Homo sapiens: one gene and its partner. The protein of the gene in region 1 interacts with the protein of each later gene in a pairwise test. Each region holds a gene or a part of one and is shown on either strand. Other genes may lie near its edges.

The links. The genes of interacting proteins can lie anywhere in the genome.
Region 2: the proteins of MIER1 (region 1) and UQCRC1 interact in binary tests that used the Homo sapiens proteins (3 or more experiments, as listed by UniProt).

Annotation. Positions count from the first base shown.
Region 1 is NC_000001.11:66,955,964-66,962,992, forward strand, and holds part of MIER1 (mesoderm induction early response protein 1), read left to right. Parts: exon of another isoform or gene 1-2,095; coding exon 2,096-2,257; intron 2,258-2,887; coding exon 2,888-3,020; intron 3,021-3,715; coding exon 3,716-3,780; intron 3,781-7,029. UniProt on the Homo sapiens protein: Transcriptional repressor regulating the expression of a number of genes including SP1 target genes. Probably functions through recruitment of HDAC1 a histone deacetylase involved in chromatin silencing.
Region 2 is NC_000003.12:48,599,629-48,606,657, reverse strand, and holds part of UQCRC1 (cytochrome b-c1 complex subunit 1, mitochondrial precursor), read left to right. Parts: intron 1-801; coding exon 802-888; intron 889-1,507; exon of another isoform or gene 1,508-1,738; intron 1,739-1,877; coding exon 1,878-2,007; intron 2,008-2,226; coding exon 2,227-2,425; intron 2,426-3,014; coding exon 3,015-3,094; intron 3,095-5,190; coding exon 5,191-5,306; intron 5,307-5,539; coding exon 5,540-5,683; intron 5,684-5,817; coding exon 5,818-5,978; intron 5,979-6,090; coding exon 6,091-6,176; intron 6,177-6,506; coding exon 6,507-6,595; intron 6,596-6,947; coding exon 6,948-7,023; intron 7,024-7,029. UniProt on the Homo sapiens protein: Component of the ubiquinol-cytochrome c oxidoreductase, a multisubunit transmembrane complex that is part of the mitochondrial electron transport chain which drives oxidative phosphorylation.

The sequences.
Region 1 (7,029 bases):
GTAGCAAGCACTCCATTTGGTACTTCTAAAGATCTAATGAAATTGTGTGTGTTGACACTGCTTTCATGGTTGCAAGAGAAAAAGACAGTGAAATCAAAGCATCTATCATAAATGCCTGACACATAGAAGATACTTTATGACAGCTATTTGTTATTCTTGTATATAAAACTAGCTTTAGGCTGGGCACGGTGGCTCATGTTTCCAATCCTACATTTTGGGAAGCCAAGGTGGGCAGATCGCTTGCATCCAGGTGTTTGAGACCAGCCTGGGCAACATGGTGAAACCCTTCTCTATGAAAAATACAAAAATTAGCCAGGCATGGTGGTGCACATGTATAGTCCCAGATACTTGGGAGGCTGAGGTGGGAGGATCATTTGAAGGTTGAGGCTGCAGTGAGCAGTGATCATGCCACTGCACTCCAGCCTGGGTGACAGAGCAAGATCCTGTCTCAAAAAATAAATCTAGCCTTTTCATTATATTTCTCTTACTACACTTCTATCTCTTATTTTGAAGTTTTGTTTTAGTTCCTGAGTATTGACTCTCCAGATTCCCAAATACCAATGTCCTGTACCAGATTCTTGGTACATGGACCAGATACTTGAACACTTAAAGCACTGTTGGTGTTGTACTTTGAGAGACACAGTGTAAGAGCTGTCATTTGTTTGCCAGCTGGTTATTTAGCTAGAGTGGCAATACCTTGCCTTGATAAAGTTACCGCTTTTCAGGTTGTAGCTTCTGCAAATCATTAGGGGTCTTGGAATTGATTTATCTTTCAGAAATAGATTCACAAACTCATTCATAACCAGAATATCCATTTGTAATGGGAAATAGAAGTTTTGGATGACAGTTTCTTCCTAGTTCTTCCTAAGAAAATCTTTTCAAATGATAATCATTAATTTCTTCCCACACATGGATTTTGAGTGATGCAGGTTAATTGTATCATCTAATCCAGTCTGATTTACCCATATCCATTGTAGCAATGTGTTTAACACATGAGCTAGACTTACTTCTTTCCATGACTGCTGGAGAAACATAAACCATGTCTTATTTCATGATTACCCTTTTTTTTCTAGCTTCTAAACTGATTGTTTTCTGACTGTTTTGCTTCAGACCATGTGCATTGTATGTGGGTGTGCATGAGTGTATAATATGTTCACATGATTTGGATTAAATTTTCTTTTTATAATCAGAATTCTGTTATGTTTCCCTGATGCTGTGCATTTCTTGTTTACTGGTTAGAGTGAGTAGTTTGTATAGAAAGCTGATTTCATTTCATTGTGTATGGACATTTCTTTTTCATCCACGGAGGGTCTGATTTTTGTGGGGATTGAGGGAAGTCCCTGCCCAAGGCACCATGGTGTATTGATATGAATATGGGCTTTTGGAGTTAGACTGTTTAAATCTGGCTCTACTACTTGTAACTTGTGTGATTTGTGAAGAAATGCTTAACCTGTCAGCCTCTGTTTTCGCATCTATGAAATGGAAATAATATAACAAGTCCGTATGATAGATGGTAAGGATTTCATGAGATGATTTTATATGTAAATGGAGATAACCATAGAGAAGAATATATGGTTAATGTAGTCCATTATCATTTCTGTATATTACTACTGGTTTGTTTGTGTTTTTTTTTTTTTTTTTTTTCATGTGTTCGGGCTGAGCTCTGAATTTTCGTCTGCCTTTCTGGGTTTGTTAACTTATAGTCTATTTCTCATTGTTCTATTTCTCCACCCTCAAGTTAAGTATGGTACTCTTATTAAGAGTGGGCATCCATGCATAGCGTTAACTGTCATTGTGCATATACTGAATTGATTGCAAAAAGAATAGTCCATGTTAGACCAAGGCCACTTTTTAATTATACTTAAAGATCTTGTTGTCAGCAATTATAACTGGTTCATTTTATAGAAATACTTAAAAGATTGGGATATTCCTAGGTTTCAGAAATATTTTCAGTTTTACTTTTTATGATCCGAGAATTCGTAACACAGCTTTTATTCTTCACTATAGAATGAATACTCCACAGATTTGTGGATTATAGCCTGGGAATCAGAAATATCACTGATTCAGAGATTACCTTTTATTTTGATTTATTTAGGAAGGCGACATGCCAATTCATGAACTTCTCAGCCTTTATGGTTATGGTAGTACTGTTCGACTACCTGAAGAAGATGAGGAAGAGGAAGAAGAGGAAGAAGAAGGTGAAGATGATGAAGATGCTGATAATGATGACAACAGTGGCTGTAGTGGGGAAAATAAAGTAAGTCTATATACATATATTTAAGATTGTAGTCTTTATTCTTGTTGAAGTTAAAATTGCTTAATATATTTTGATTACTTGTCTTTATAATCTTTTCCTGATTTTAAAAGTGTTAAAAATTAAGATATTACAGAAATACATAATATAAAAATTGGAAATCCCCTGTAATTTACTCCTGAGGTAACAGTTTGGTCTTGTCATTTCAGGTTTCTTTTTTTCCAGTGCTTATTCTAATTAATTTATACCAACTTTCTAAAAAAATGCTATTGCTTTTAAATAATAAAGGCTAATTGGCAGTTTGTGTTTATTTTTCTTACTTTATTTTGAAATAATTTTAGATTTATAAAAGGTTTAAAGTTAGTATAGAACGTTCCTGTATACTCTTACCTCAACTTCTGCTAAGGTTAACATCTTGGTACAGTGCTATTAACTAAACTGCAGATTGAATTATACCAGTTTTTCTGCTAATGTACTTTTTCCTGTTGCAGGAACCAACCCAGAGGATGATACTACATCTAGTATATTCATTTTAGTCTTCTGCATATATTAGAACAAAATTTATATGCTATGGTCTTTCATCTGCAACTGTTTTCCTTACATCTTAGAGAAATTTAATTTATTATTCCACAGGAGGAGAATATAAAGGATTCATCAGGTCAGGAGGATGAAACTCAGTCTTCCAATGATGATCCATCACAATCTGTTGCTTCTCAAGATGCCCAGGAAATAATCCGCCCACGTCGATGTAAATATTTTGATACAAGTAAGTGTTACTGGTTGATAATATTTGAATATAATTTTTACTATTTTAGGTATTACCTAAAATCCTCTTTTTTAAACTGGTCTTTGAATTCATTTAGTCTGAAATTCTTTTCAACAGTAAATGGATTTTGTTGTAAGTTATTAGTTTAGCAATGCAGGGTCCCTGTTGTTAGTGAATATACTATGGTAATTGTGTCATGTACTACTTGACTTTGGGTGTATTTGTTTTTTCTTTGCCCTGTTTTTAAATGTTTGTTTCATGGTCATCTTTTTGTTTCTCATAGTCTTTCCCTTAGTTTCCATTTTTTACTTTCTTTGCCTCTTAGCCTTTTTTAGGTATATTCATAAATACACCTAAATTTCTCTACTTTAAAAGGAAGAAAAACACTTGAAGAAAAATAAACTGTCATGAAATATGTAGTAAGATAATATTATCTTTATTCTAAATCAGTTTTTTCCCCTAAGTTTTTATAGGAAATCATTTCATGAGAATACAATTATGTAGAAAGTTTATGGTTTTTTTGGTTTTGTTTTTTTAAGTGATAGGGTGTTAATTATTTGGTTAGAAATATCTTGGCTTAATTCATTAGATATCTTTGAGCATATCCAAATATTTGATGGTAGATGTAAAAATAATATGTAGATTTAGACAGGATAAGCAGTCATTTTATAGTATTGGTGTCTTATTTATTCTAGATAGTGAAGTAGAAGAAGAATCTGAAGAAGATGAAGATTATATTCCATCAGAAGACTGGAAAAAGGTAGTTAGAACAATATTTTCCCAAAATTTAGATAAATTAATATTTTTTTAAAAAGCCTCGTGTAATTATTTTTTTTTTTACTAACTATGTATATTGATAAAATCGATGTAAGCCCTTTTATGACATTTAAATGTTTGGTAAATGTTCAGATTCCTTCTTAACACATCTAGGTTAGATTAGAAATCTACATTTCTGGCGGGGTGTGGTGGCTCACGCCTGTTATCCCAGCACTTGGGAGGCTGAGGCAGGCGGATCGCTTGAGCCCAGGAGTTCGAGACCAGCCTGGGCAGCGTTGCGGGACCCTGTCTCATTTTATAAAACAAAACAAAAAATAAATAAAACAGAAATCCACATTTCTGATTTAGTCCTGAACTAGTGCCAAATTAGGCATTTGTTGCCCTGTAAAAAGTATCACGTATATGTTTTTCAATATTATGGAAAGCATTTGTGGAGGCTTTGATATTTGTTAAGTAAATTTTGTTTAGTAGTTCATATTGCAAGTTTTTCATTCTGTATTACTTTATAAAAGAAAAACTCTCCAAATGATTGAATTTAATGTTGACATTTACAACTGATAAGCTTATTATATGAAGAAACAGATTTGGCTTCTTCGTAACTATATACAATTAATTTCTGAAATGAATCTAAAGATAATATATTGAGATTAGTTTTTAATTATAAAATTATATAGCATATAATTAATCATACAGTTAAGTTAAAGAATTGTAAGTTATTGTAAAAGAACTGAGCTCTTAGGAAAAATCTATCTAAACATTATGTAGAATTAGCTGGTTGCAGTGATGTTTCCCCTGTTGTCCCAGCTACTTGGGAGGCTGAGGTAGGGAGAATCACTTCAGCCCAGGAGTTTGAGACCAGGCTGGGCAACATAGTGAGACCCCATGTCTTCAAAAAAATTTTTTATGTAGAACTGGTTAAAACAAAGAAATAATGTTATTTTTGTTGAGAGACAAGGTTAGCCCAGTTTACGGTATGTGTTAATTTGAGCAAATGATGGGACTCGACAGAAAACAAGAATCACAAAAGTTAATTTGTGTGGCCTATTTGGGCAAGGGTTCTTTCATCCTGTTTTTAATCTGATTCCTACAGTGTGCAGAAATTAAGATGAAAAAAGCTAGAAACCTTGGGAGTCCTTATAAATTGCTGTCCCACTTCATATTCAAGTTTATGTATCTTCAACATGTGTTGTTTTTTAATCTGGAGTGTTCAGTAGAGTATTTGATTAAGCATTCAGTGTTTTTTTTTTAAATGAAAGAACAAAAGCTCAGAGGTAGAACACCTCTCATTGCTGGAGGGTATTAATTACCCACACCTTACTCAGAAAGGGTATTAATTAACCACACCTTTCTCAGAAAAAAATTATGTAATAAAGCAGGCCAGAGTAAATGCAGATTGTTTTCTTTCAGTATGATTTTGTTGTTTTAAATAATTGTCAAGGTTCAGAGATTCATTTTTTTTTAAGACTTATAAGATGAAATTGAGTTTTTATAGAAACTTAAGGTAGGGGAAACAGTTTTGAAGTCAAACCTGAATTTTAGTTGTAGCTCTAGAACTTAGTAATTGTGTGCTCCTGAGAAAATCAAATTTTTGAGCTTCATCTTCTTACATATAGTATGGGAATAACAATGTCAGCCTTATGGGGCTTGCTGAAAGATTAAAGGAAAATTGCATATATGATATGTTAACACATAATGATCTTCAAAGCTATTTCCCTTCCCTTCCCTGTACTACCGAACAAATTAACAGATGAAAAGAAATGTTCAGAACTGAACAGGAAAAAGGAAGTACCTATCTTTAAACTAATCCAGATGTTCTCAACCCTGTTTTTATGTTAGAATCATTTGGATAACTTAGATGTACTGACTACCAGGGCCTTCATTCATAGATTCTAATTTAATTGTCCTGCAGTGGATCCAGGCATTGATGGTTTAGAAGCACCCCAGCCAGGGTTAGTAACTTGACAATGTTCTTTGGTAGGCCTAGGTGAGTTAAGTTAAAAGAGGCACAAGATGTGACAATAAAGGACTCTTTTTATAGTAGAAGACATAAAGAGAATTCCATTGTAAGGGTAGAGAAAATTTGTTGTAAGTTTGATTCTTTTTAGAAAACTGATCATGAGAAAGATTGGTTTTTCTTATGGGTATAGAAATAACTTTATTACATAAAGCACGTCTTTGAAGTTGTACTGGATAAAATGAGCTCCTCACATCAGTGAGGTAACAATAGCAGGAGAGAGACTTTCCAAATCCTAAGAGTTACCAAAACTTCTAGACCATGATTTTGTACCTTTCATGCCCAATTTTGAAAATGTCAGTAAATGTGTTCTTAACATTTAGCCATCACACAAAAGAGGGTTCATGTAATCTTGGTCTCCTTGCATTGTGAAATTTCACCAGTGGTAGTTTGCAGTTGCTTTTGAGAACATCCAGTTTCACCTAATCTGTGATTTGACTGTATAGATATGATTACTGGATTTCCTATTTAATTATATTTGTGGGAGGAGGTTACTTTTTCATTTTGTATTGTTTTAATGAAAGTCAAGCCATAACCTGCTTATCTATTTCATTTAGAGTTTCTTTCATTTGGCCCCTACTGAGCTTTATACAAACCCTTTTTGTTATTTTTCCTACTTTGAAGCTCTGTTTTTCAGACTTCAGTCTATGTCAGAATCACCTAGAGAGCTTGTTAAAATACCAATGACTGAGTCCTGTCCCCAGAGTTTCAGTAGGTTTGGGGTGGGACCTGAGCATTTGCATTTCTAACAGTTTCCCATTAGCTGTGTGTGGTGGCATGTGCCTGTAGTCCCAGCTACTCAGAGACTGAGGTGAGAGAATTGCTTGAGCCTGGGAGGTCGAGGCTGCAGTGAGCCATGATCACTCCAGCCTAGGTGACAGAGCAAGACCCTGTCTCAAAAAAACAAAAATTTCATAGATGACACTGATGCTGCTCATATAGGGATCATATTTAAGACCACTGTCTTAAGTGTAGATACTCTGAAAATATCTGAATTTGACTTTGTGTTTTACATGTTTTGCAGTTGTCTTACTAATGGAATTATCAGAATTCACTTCTTTGTCTCTATATTTTGAAATAAAGTTTGTATTTATTGTTTACGTTGCATTTCACCTCAGTATTATTACTAATATTTTCATCCAGTCATTATTTGTCATTCATCTTCACAAAGGTACCTCTGAGGTAGTTAATTGGTTGTTTTTGTATTTTATGACAGAG
Region 2 (7,029 bases), on another chromosome or scaffold:
ATTCTGCCTCAGCCTCCCAAGTAGCTAGGACTACAGGCACGTGCCACCACACCTGGCTAATTTTTGTATTTTTAGTAGAGACAGGGTTTCACTATATTGGCCAGGCTGGTCTCGAACTGCTGACCTCGTAATCCACCTGCCTTGGCCTCCCAAAGTGCTGGGATTACAGGTATAAGCCACCGCGCCCAGCCTGTGGTGCGTGTTTCACAGCAACCAGGAGGCTGTCAAGAAAATTAATATTACCTTATTGGGTGCCAAGGCAACACTGTTTGGTGTTCAGAGCTGATTAAAAACAACAACAAAAAAGATATTATAGGAACAATATTTAGTGTGATAAAATATACAGTCTAAACCAATAGTCCCTTCCTTAATGATGAAAGGATAAAATCATTGCCAGAACAAAGGCAGCGTGTAATTTTTAGAAAGGAAAAAATAAGTTGTTATTTGCAAATGATATGTTGTATGCTTAGACAAAAACAAATAATTAACTGAAAATTGAGAGTGAATTTAAGGATTTGTATGCTGGTGAGACCAGGTAAATGTGCACAGTTAGAAGTGTCCCTGTGGGTCCTTGATAGCCAATCAGGAGAGCAATGATGTGGTGTGACGAGTCATTCGGCTGCCCCTGTTTTCCAAGCATGACTGTGTCCCCAAGCACAGGGGTCCTGCTGGGGCAGCTCTCCCTGACTCCAGGATTCATAAGTCCCTGCCTGGGGCTTGTACTGAGTCACTCAGGTGGGGTGTGAGTAGGGGGCTGGGGAGTGGTTTGTTTGTAACCTTTTCTGGTGGCTTCTTGACCAGGTGGGAGTGTGGATTGATGTTGGCAGCCGTTTTGAGACTGAGAAGAATAATGGGGCAGGCTACTTTTTGGAGCATCTGGCTTTCAAGGTGAGGCTCTTAAAGTCTGTCTCCTCTGGGCTTAGGGCTGCCTGTTGTCCCTCCTGAGGATGAAGGTCAGAAAAATTAGCCTGATTATGGGCCTCAGTTGCGGGGCTGATGTCTGGCTGGCTTTCCTAAAAGGAGCCACATGAGCTTAACCTCTCCTGAGTGGGCACGTATCTGATGAGCCCCTGCCTGAGGCCCTCAGAGCCAAGAGGACCCAAGGAACCATAGGAGCCCCACTTTTCACCAGAGAAGCCAGGCCTGTGGAACACACGTAGATATGCACATGCATTTTAACAAACCCACAGACATGGGCATGCATGCTTGCTTATGAAATGTTCTTCTCTGGTGGAATATCTAGGCATCCCTTGGTTGTAAAGACCCATGTTTTTTAAAGGAATGAAAAACATGGAGAAGGATTATGGGGTGGGCAGGGCCATGGAGCCATAGTAGGCAACCTAGCCAGCTGCAATGTCACAGGTATGTGTGCAGAATTAACGTGTGTGTGCACACCAAGAGATAGCACCACTGTTCTCCACACACAGGACTAGGATTGGGTCCCACAGAGGCCACTAGCATGTATTCACAAACATACAGTCATGGGAATGGCATGGGAGGAGTGGGTTCTATCACTTGAACACAGGTGTGGGCTTACCTGACCATGGCTGTCAATAAGGAGGGGGGAGGTGTACTGGTAATGATCCCCACAGCTTGTTGGTAAGCTGTTACAGGAGCTTTAGGCAACACTTGCTCTGGCCATGCCCTTCAGTCCTGGCCCTGGCTATCTCTGTTCTGTTGGCGCATGATGCCATGGTTTTGGTCACCTCAAGGCCTGCTTAGTGCTTGGTAAACAGACTCTGGGATCTGTGTCCCCAGAGTCTATGCTGAGGGAGGTACCTGTGGACCAGTGGTCCTGCTGGGTGTTTAGCCTCTGAGGACAGGGTTCTTGGGTTCCTGTGTAGCTCCTGATTGTTCTGGTTGATATCTGGTTCCAGGGAACAAAGAATCGGCCTGGCAGTGCCCTGGAGAAGGAGGTGGAGAGCATGGGGGCCCATCTTAATGCCTACAGCACCCGGGAGCACACAGCTTACTACATCAAGGCGCTGTCCAAGGATCTGCCGAAAGGTAACACCTGGAGGAAGAGGCGGGGACAGAGGGCAGGGAAGCAGAGGACAGCTACCTAGGAGCCCCTGGCTGACCACAGAATCATATTACCCTTAGCGTATGGCTTTGCAGCTGGGCAACTAGGGGTGGGCAGCAGGAGATGCCAGGCCTGGGGATTTTGTGCTGTCGTTGGTCTGCAGTGGTCCACCTGGCACCTAAACATGTCCTCCTTGCATCTAGCTGTGGAGCTCCTGGGTGACATTGTGCAGAACTGTAGTCTGGAAGACTCACAGATTGAGAAGGAACGTGATGTGATCCTGCGGGAGATGCAGGAGAATGATGCATCTATGCGAGATGTGGTCTTTAACTACCTGCATGCCACAGCATTCCAGGGCACACCTCTAGCCCAGGCTGTGGAGGGGCCCAGTGAGAATGTCAGGTGAGAGTTGGCTGGCCTTGTGGGGGGATGCTTGCTCCATTCTGGCCTGGCCAGACCCTTTCCAGGTCACATTTTTAGTTGGCTAGCTGTCGGGGTTATTTTCCTGAGTTATGCAACTGGAGACAGTTTCTGTATCCATGTGGTCCAGTGAGTCTTTTTTAATGGCTTTGTGGGCTTCACTTGAATTTTGGGCTTTGTTTTAAGGTATGTTTTGGTGCATGTCCTGACAGTCCAAGGGCGAAGTGTCTGGGTGTCCCCTCCATGTGGTCTCTTGTCTCCTTTGTGGATGGCTCCGGGAGCTTTGATGCTGCCCTTTTGAGAGTCCCACAGTGTTGGCTCACGCCTTCTCAGAGAAGACTATGAGCCTGTCCTGAAGTCAGGCATGAGGCAAGGGCAGACAAGGGTTGCCCTCTGGGCCCTGGAGGGGTGGGTGGCAGAGACAGGGGAAGGGGGTTGGGGAGTGTGCTAGGGCCCACTCTTCGGAGAAACCATGCCTCTCCTAGTCTGCCTCCTCAGTCCCATTCATGCATGTACCCCAACTCACTCCAGTGTGGTAGAGGTGTTGACACACTGACCATATGTCTTGTAGGAAGCTGTCTCGTGCAGACTTGACCGAGTACCTCAGCACACATTACAAGGCCCCTCGAATGGTGCTGGCAGCAGCTGGAGGTGAGTGATGGAATCACTGAAGTCCTGGGTAGTGGGGTCCCAGCCTTGGTTATCAAAGCCGAGGTCCTGGTTCCCACCATAGGGGACCTTTCACCCCAGGGGACTCTGCTCCCACCCTAACCTTGAGGGGAATGACCTTCCTCCTGTGCTCTCTGAGGTGGGATAGGATTCTACCCTGCCGCCACCACTGGGACTGGTTACACAGGATGCTGTCCCTCTGGTACAGGTCTGTCTTAGCCCCACCTGGTTCTAGGATACTGAGTTCATGGGCTGGTAGGGGATGTAAGCTCCTGGCCTTGTTCCTTGTGGCCTTGCCCTTGGGAGAGCCAGCCATTAGTTGTGTGTTGATGCATGCCTGATAACAAACCAAGAAGTGCCTTGAAAGGAAGGCACAGAAGGGTGGGGAAGATTTCACTGGGGACTCAGAGTTGGAGTTTGGGGGAGGGGCTTTTTAAAGCACCTGTAGTTTGAACAGAAGCCTGAAAGGTGGTGAGTGTTATTTAGGTGGGGTGTGGGGAGCTGAGCGCAGGGGAAGAGCAGTGTCATGGTCTAAGGTTTGCTCTGCTGCTGTGTGGGGTCACAGTGCAGGTAGGCTGGCTAGAGAGGGGCTGTGGCAGGGACTGGGCAGGAGATGGCAGGAGCAAGGGGGAGCAGTAGATGGACTCCAGGTGGTTTTATAGATGGAACCTGGTTGGGGTCTGGACATGGGTAAGGAACTGAGGTCAAGGTGCTTCCCATCTTGGCTGGTCGTGGTGGCTCACGCCTGTAATCCTAGCACTTTGGAAGGCCGAGGTGGGTGAATCACCTGAGGTAAGGAGTTCGAGACCAGCCCAGCCAACGTGACAAAACCCCGTCTCTGGTAAAAATACAAAAATTAGCCAGGCTTGGTGGCAGTTGCCTATAATCCCAGCTACTTGGAAGGCTGAGGCAGGAGAATCCCTTGAACCCGGGGGACGGAGGTTGCAGCGAGCTGAGATTGTACCACTGCACTCCGGCCTGCACAACAGAGTGAAACTCCATCTCAAAAAAAAAAAAAAAAACAAACATGCTTCCCAGCTTATGACCTTGGCGGCTGAGTGTGCAGAAAAGACCAATAGGAAGAGCATGACCAGGGGCTTTGGAGCTGGGGAACCTGGGGGCAAGAGCAATCTGACGTGTGTGTCAGACTAGCAGGGCTTGAGCTCATGGAAGGAAGGAATGAAAGGCCAACGCAGGCCGGGCGCGGTGGCTCACGCCTGTAATCCCAGCACTTTGGGAGGCCGAGGCGGGCGGATCACAAGATCAGGAGCTCGAGACCATCCTGGCTAACACAGTGAAACCCCGTCTCTACTGAAAATACAAAAAAATTAGCCAGGCGTGGTGGCGGGCGCCTATAGTCCCAGCTACTCGGGAGGCTGAGGCAGGAGAATGGCGTGGACCCGGGAGGTGGAGCTTGCAGTTAGCTGAGATTGCACCACTGTGCTCCAGCCTGGGCAACAGAGCGAGACTCCGTCTCAAAAAAAAAAAAAAAGGCCAATGCAACTGGTGGCACCACAGAGCCCTCCTCTTGTGGAGGTGAGGAGGCAAGATCCAAGGAGTCCTAGGGTATACGTTTGTAACATTATTTGCAAATGTCCCCAGCTCTCAGGGGACCCAAGAGCTAATCACAGCCCTGTAATAGCTCCTCTTTCTGCCCCCTCACTTGCCACCCCCTGCAGGGCCAGCAGCCAGAAATACTTGAGGGAGAGCTAGAGGGAAAAGGCAGGCCAGGTGGCTTTGTGCCCAGGAGTACCAGTCTTGTCCTTGATGTAGGTGGAATGCATCTTCTCAAGTGAGAACCCACACTTGGATCACATGGCAGCCCATTTTGAAACTCTGAACGCTTTTGCTCTCCTGGGACTGAGGCCATGGGAGCTATTTGGCCCTGAGGTGCCTGTCCTGTCCACAAGGCAGGGTCTGTCTGAGGAGGACCTTCTTTCCTCACCCTGTTCTAATGTCACATACTCCTGGTTTCTCCCACTAAGACAGGACATGGGGGTCCTCTGCCTGTCTGTGAATCGCCCCACCCTGTGCCTTGGGCCCTGGCTGGTCAGTAATGCCACTGTCTGTCTCAGCAGGAGTGGAGCACCAGCAACTGTTAGACCTCGCCCAGAAGCACCTCGGTGGCATCCCATGGACATATGCAGAGGACGCTGTGCCCACTCTTACTCCATGCCGCTTCACTGGCAGTGAGGTATGCTGCCTTTTGGGCAGGAGTAGTGCTCAGCTGGGGGCCTGTGGGAGGACCCCCATGTGCATGGTTATCCTGGTGACTCCAGAGATACCTCAGCAGTTGGGAAGGGGTTCTGTGGCTGCTGCATCACAGGCACACATGTTCACACACATACACCCTCTACCCACACCTGCCACCTTTTCTGTTCCCCTGGCAGTCTGGCTGTTCCTCAGCCTTGTCATGTACTGTTTCAGATCCGCCACCGTGATGATGCTCTACCTTTTGCCCACGTGGCCATTGCAGTAGAGGGTCCTGGCTGGGCCAGCCCGGACAATGTGGCCTTGCAAGTGGCCAATGCCATCATCGGCCACTATGACTGCACTTATGGTGGTGGCGTGGTGAGTGCCAGCGCGAGCATGGGACCTCGCCTTCAGGGAAGAGAGGGTGCTGGGGCTGTGTGCTCCTGTGCGTGGGGGTCACAGTGTGCGTTGAAGACAAGAGGGTGGGTGCTGACCACCTATCCCCCTGGCAGCACCTGTCCAGCCCACTGGCTTCAGGTGCTGTGGCCAACAAGCTATGCCAGAGTTTCCAGACCTTCAGCATCTGCTATGCAGAGACGGGCTTGCTGGGTGCACACTTTGTCTGTGACCGAATGAAAATCGATGACATGATGTTCGTCCTGCAAGGGCAGTGGTAAGTGGCAGCCTGGTATTCCTAGGTGGGATGGCGGCTTTAACCAGCACAGTGGGAGGCTGAGAGATGACACACTGGCTCAGAATGAATACCACCCACCCCCCCACTTTAGGATGCGCCTGTGTACCAGTGCCACGGAGAGTGAGGTGGCCCGGGGCAAAAACATCCTCAGAAATGCCCTGGTATCTCATCTAGATGGTGAGTCCTACAGCTCAGCGGGGAGGGGTAGAGTACATCTTGCCAGCGACAGCACCAAGGTGGCCACTGCTCCTAACTAACCAAGGTTAGAAAGGAAAACTTTGAAGACCACGCCATGCCCCATCACCCCACCCTTGGAGATGCAGGCAGGTGTGAGACAGGTCCACAGCCCATCACTGCCATAATAGGTGACCATAGAAGAGAGGGCTGTGATCTGAGTCAGCATGAGGTCAGGGAGGTCCTTGTCAACCTGAGGCTGGAGATTGTTTGTGTACCTGTGGGTCCAGGATTGGGCTGGGTGGACCTCTGAGCCTTCTCTCACCCTTAAAGGCACTACTCCTGTGTGTGAGGACATCGGACGCAGCCTCCTGACCTATGGCCGCCGCATCCCCCTGGCTGAATGGGAAAGCCGGATTGCGGTAACATGGACCCCTGGGAGAGGTTCTGGAGTCTTGGCCTGGCAGACACCTGGGAGGTGTAGGGTTGGGGCCTGGCATAGCGCAGCCTGCTCCTATAGGCATCCCTGGTGTCCTAGGCAGCTGTCACCTGCAGGGGTAGCATAGTGGGAGGGCAGGGCATAGGTGCTGATGGCTGTGGAGATGGGCGGGGCCCATGGAGGTCTATAGCAGGGATCCCTTCTGCCTTTCCTCTTTTGGGCTGGGGACAGCTGCATGCTGCCTGTGGGAGATCTCTGCTAGTTGGATGATGCTGACTGGCTGAGGTGGTGGCCAGGTGCCCGTTAGCCAGTATGCCCTCTGCCTCACCCTGCAGGAGGTGGATGCCAGTGTGGTACGTGAGATCTGCTCCAAGTACATCTATGACCAGTGCCCAGCAGTGGCTGGATATGGTAAGT